Linked DNA regions of Homo sapiens: region 1 is linked to region 2. Evidence: fine-mapped expression QTL. A gene starts in region 2. The other region holds a variant in brackets. All regions are shown on one strand. Distances are from middle to middle. Region 1 overlaps MASP1 (MBL associated serine protease 1). Region 2 holds the start of MASP1 (MBL associated serine protease 1).

Region 1 (2,500 bases), 30 kb after region 2:
CTGTCTGCGAGGTTATCTAACTTTTTAAAACTTTCATATTGAGTTATTTTTAATAAATAAGCTGCTTGGTTATTGACAGCAACAACAAATATCAAGCTACTTCTAATGGAACTAAATAAGACGAATGAAACTGATCAGATGTCCACATTGAATTAACTTGTAATGCGTCTTTTCTCAAGAATCCTTAACCTCCTTTCTTTGGGTTTCTCAGGCTGACTAGCCTACTCTTGGGTGGCCCCTTCCTTTTTCTTTCTAAAGATAAGGAAAGAAGCCTAGCTGGGAAACTGCTCATCTTGTTCCCTTTCTCTTTGACCTCAAAGGTAGAAACTGAGGACCAGGTGCTGGCAACCTTCTGTGGCAGGGAGACCACAGACACAGAGCAGACTCCCGGCCAGGAGGTGGTCCTCTCCCCTGGCTCCTTCATGTCCATCACTTTCCGGTCAGATTTCTCCAATGAGGAGCGTTTCACAGGCTTTGATGCCCACTACATGGCTGTGGGTAAGTTGGAGAAGTGACTCATCCTCAGGTCTCTCTCTCTCTCTCCGAAGATGAAAACTGCCTTGTGACCTCTCCTTTACGATGGAAATCTGTGTGTGCACCACATAGATTTTACCATTAATGTCTTAATGCATTTGCTCTATCACGTATCTATCCATCTATCTACCCTCTATCCATCCAGCAATTCATCTTTTACAAAGTGTTTTAACGTAAATTGCAGACATCAGTATACTTCTTCCTAAATAATTCAGCATGCATATTATTTTGCTAGAGTTTCATATTTGTTCACAGCATTTTTTCTTTTTGTGTAAAATTGACATAAAATGGAATATACATATCTCATGTATACATTTGTTGAATTTTGAAAAATCTGTATTTGTGTGTAACCCAAACCTCTAACAAGACACTGAACTTTACCACCAGCCCAGGGGGTTCCTTTGTGTCCCTGCCAGTCAATCTCTGCTCCCACTTCCCTTAGAGGAAACAACTGTTTTGATTTTTTTTCTGCTGTAGATTAGTTCTTGCCTCTTCTAAAACTTCATTTAAATGAAAACATACAGAATACATTTTGGGGGTGAGGATTCTTTTACTCAGCATAATGTTTTTGAAGTTAATTCATGTGTCGCATGCATCAGTAATTTGCTCCTTTTCCTGGCAGAGTAATTTTCCATTGTATGAATATACTAAAGTATGTTTACTCATTCTCTTATTGACGGCTACTTGGAATCTCCCCATTTTTTAGCTCTC[A/G]CTAACAAAGTTTTTATGAACCTTCTTGTGCAAGTCTTCTTGCAAACATATGTTTTCAATTCTATTGAGTAAATATGTAAGAGAAGAATTGCTGAGTCATAGGATAGGTATACGTTTAGCTTTATGAGACATTGCCAGACCTTTTCCAAAGCAAATGTAACATTTTTTATCTGTCCACCAATGTATGAGAGTTCTGGCTGCTCCACATCTAAACCAACATTAGATGTTGTCAATTTTTAAAAATTTTAATCACTCTGGTGAGTATGTAGTGGTACCTCATTGTGGTTTAAACTGCATTCCCTTAATGACTAGCAATGTTGAACATCTTTTCATGTGCTTGTTGGCCATTGGTTTATCCCTTTTGGGGAAATGTACATTCAAATGCCTAGGACAGGGCTTGACCCACATTAGGGGCAGAAAGAAAGAAAGAGGTAGCATGAGGTAGAAGTTAAGAGCACAAGCTCTGTACCCAGCTTGTCTGTATTTAAATCCTGGGTCTGCCACTTATTATCTGTGTGATTCTAAGTTTGTTAATGCCTCTATGTCGCCATTTCATCCTCCATAGAATGTGACTAGTAACAGAATGCATAGTAACAAATGTGTAATTCTTCCTGAGGTTGTTGTCCCACACACAGTTATTATTATAACTGTTAGAGGATAGTGGTCCCACCAGAAGTCAAGTTACCTGGGTTTGAACTTGGCTTTTTGTGACCTTGGGTAAGTTGCCTAACCTCTCTGAGTTCCAGTTTCCTAGTCTGTAAAGTGAAGATAATGGCTACCTCTGGGCTGTATGAGAGGATTAAATGAGAGAACGCATGAATCTCCTAACATAGTGAGTGGCCCATATCAAGTGCTCTATAAATGTTGGCTGTAGTCTTCATCATCATGCATGTATTGATGGAGAGGCTTTACCTGCCCTACAGATGTGGACGAGTGCAAGGAGAGGGAGGACGAGGAGCTGTCCTGTGACCACTACTGCCACAACTACATTGGCGGCTACTACTGCTCCTGCCGCTTCGGCTACATCCTCCACACAGACAACAGGACCTGCCGAGGTAGAGCCTACCAATGATTGTATGCATTGCCCTTATAGGCCACATCCTCAATAACATTAGATGAGGCTCAGAGAAAGACAGATATGCAATAGGAACAAGTAAAAATGAAGTCAATGATGCACCTCAGACACCACATGGATGAAGATGCAGAAATGCCCACCCAGCCTGGAAACCTGATCTTGGGTTCCCAAAGGAGAGAA
Region 2 (3,006 bases):
AAGGAACGTTATCTGAGGGTAGACAGTGCATGTGTCTGCCGCTTTGGTGAGTGTGGCTGGCAGCCCTCTCTCTGGTACTCCCCTGGACACTTCTACAAGCACAGTCTTATTTAAGCCTCATAGTAACTCCCATTTTCCAAATGAAGACACAGAATCAGATACCTTAAGTATTGTGCCCAAAGTACACAGCTGTCTTGGGTAGAAAGGAAAGATTACAGCTAAACTCTGAGTCTAATCTTCTTTTCAAAATGACTCAGATTGAGTTTCTCTATGAATGCCGTCTGTGTGTGTGCATTTGAAATTCCATATGCATTATAAAATGTTAATGAGTAGCAGTGTAATACAGTGGCTAACACTTCAAATTCTGCCTCTATTACTTTCTAGCTGTGTGAACTTGGGAAAGTTACTTAACCTCTCTGGGCAATTTCCTCTGAAAAATGAGAATATTGCCAGCCATGTATACAACATATAAAGATGACTGAAAAGAATTCATATATTAAGTGCTTAGAGCAGTGCCTGACACGTAGCACTCAATAGCTGTTAGCTTCTAGTGCTAGTGGCAGTGGGGAGTCATAAATAACTGGATGATCTTGGCAAGTGGCATATTCTCTCTGAGCCTTAGTGTCCTCACTTGTAAAATGAGTATAACAGCAGCACTTTCACCAGTTTGCAAAAGTAACTTGAGATGATGTTAATGACTAGTACTGTGTCTAACACAGAAAAGGTGCACAGTCAAACTTAACTTTTACACCCAGATACACCTCTCCCTATTCAGTGTTGGTTGTTGTTGTTGTGGAGGGGGTAATTTTCTTATTATTCAGCTCATCTTAGATCTAGTGTTGATTTCTCCGGAAGCCATGGGTATAGACATATATACAGGCCCAGGTCTTTCTACACCCCTGGGGAGGTGAGATTTCTTGCTGCGATGGGCCCTTTCTGGGCTGGAGTAGAGCCGCACACACTCCGAGCAAGTAAACAGTGCCACAGGTATTGCTCATGGGGAGGAACAACCAGCCAACTTCAGGACTTGGTGCTTCCCCAGTTCCGGGCCCGTGGCTCTGTTCACAGGAAAACCTGTCGTTGTGTGTGACTCTGATCACGAGAAAACCTGTAGTTATTTGGGGCTCTGCTCACAAGGAAACCTGTAGTTATTTGCAGACAGACGCTCTGGGATTTAGACCTTTTTTTTTTCTTCTAGTGTAGGTGCTAGAATTGCCTTCTTAGTTGGTTGTTTCTATTTAATTGCTTTTCTTTCATGGGTGTCCTGAAGAAAAGCAGAAAATTATAGTCATCTGGCAAAAAAGACTAAAGAGAAATTAGACTTTGTCCCCTTTCACTCTCTCTCTCTCTCTCTCTCTACACACACACACACACACACACACACACACACAGAGTGATACAAATACCTGCTTGAGCCCCTCAGTTATTTTCTCTCAAGGGCTGAAGTCAGCCACACAGGATAAAGGAGGGAAGGGAAGGAGCAGATCTTTTCGGTAGGAAGACAGATTTTGTTGTCAGGTTCCTGGGAGTGCAAGAGCAAGTCAAAGGAGAGAGAGAGGAGAGAGGAAAAGCCAGAGGGAGAGAGGGGGAGAGGGGATCTGTTGCAGGCAGGGGAAGGCGTGACCTGAATGGAGAATGCCAGCCAATTCCAGAGACACACAGGGACCTCAGAACAAAGATAAGGCATCACGGACACCACACCGGGCACGAGCTCACAGGCAAGTCAAGCTGGGAGGACCAAGGCCGGGCAGCCGGGAGCACCCAAGGCAGGAAAATGAGGTACGTGCCAGGGGAGGAGAGGGCACGGTTCCCTTTTGGGGACCAGTGTCAAATAGCAGGGAAGGTCTGACCTTGTCACTGACAGACTCACCTGCGTGTCCTGCATGTGGTAGTGAGGGGCTTTCTCATCAATTCTTAGGGCTCTGAGAAGGGAGCTGTGGGTGGGCTGGGTGCCTTCCCCAGGACTCCAGGAGACATAAAACTTGAAACGGGAGACTTCGTGCAAATCCTGCTCCGGACGCTGCTGAAGCTCAGATTTCTCCCACTGCCTGCACAGGGTGCTGCCTGCTGGCGAATGTGACTCTCCTCCTGTTCACCCACAAGGCTGATTTTTCCGTGTTCCTCCTCTGGAAAGAGCATTGCTTTCTCTCTTCCAGCACTTTGTGAGTTAGATATGTGTTTGTGTGTTCATTCCTTCTGACCAGAAAAGAAACCAGCTTCCCATAGCTTGGCTCTGTGGTTTCTTCAACCTTTACAAGTTTGCCAGTTAAACCTCAATTTAGAAAACTAAAAATCTGTCCCCATTTTACAGTTCCCTATAAATTTTCTGCATTTCTCATTGAAATCAGAGGCAGCTGGTGGCATGAATCAGGCTATGAAGTACACCAAATGGCTCTTAAAGAGATATCATACTTAAAAAAAAAAAAAGGATTTTAGAGTTCTGAAATCAAGAACTTCAAATTCTAATTGGTTTTAAACTCTTTAACCTTTCTTATTCCTCATTATACTTGACACTCCTTACCAGACCTTTCATACAAGTTCTATCCTGCAAGTCTGAAAACCCAACCACCCTAGTTATTTTTATTAGTTAAGTGTTAATGCTGTTACACACACACACACACACACACACACACACAATGCTCTGCAGATGTGTAAGTCCCTAAACACATCTTTTACTATTAATTTTCTTTTCACTTGGGAAAGTGTTTTTATTTGTTTCTCTTCTGCAAAGTAACCTAGCAACTTTTCTGGACCTGAGACCAATGAGAGGCTTCAGACTATGTTAACTCTTTGAACTCCGATTACCTGTGGTTCAGAGAGATAACCAGGTCCTTAAAAAGTGAGTGCAATAATTCTGTTCTTCTTAAAGCCATAGTAATTTTAAACCTGCCATTAAACATCATTTTTCTTTCTCCAAAAAAAAGTGATTTATGTCAATCTACATTGAATGATAATCTCATTTATCTGTCAATGATCTGGTCTGAATCCCACCCTACCATTCAGTGC

The links. PIP is the estimated chance that this variant, and not a neighbour inherited with it, causes the effect.
Region 1: its variant is fine-mapped to the expression of MASP1 in fibroblasts (GTEx, PIP 0.92).

Annotation. Positions count from the first base shown.
Region 1 is chr3:187,260,541-187,263,040 of GRCh38, reverse strand. It overlaps MASP1 (MBL associated serine protease 1), which reads left to right. Exons shown (of 11, transcript NM_139125.4): 3 at 321-498; 4 at 2,169-2,300. Among named protein-coding and RNA genes, the nearest start is that of MASP1, 30 kb to the left of the region's middle. The variant A/G (reference allele first, on the strand shown) is at 1,246.
Region 2 is chr3:187,290,401-187,293,406 of GRCh38, reverse strand. MASP1 (MBL associated serine protease 1) reads left to right here and starts at 1,670. Exons shown (of 11, transcript NM_139125.4): 1 at 1,670-1,779. The coding sequence starts at 1,775. LOC101929130 (a long non-coding RNA gene) reads right to left here and starts at 2,135. Exons shown (of 2, transcript NR_135551.1): 1 at 1,871-2,135.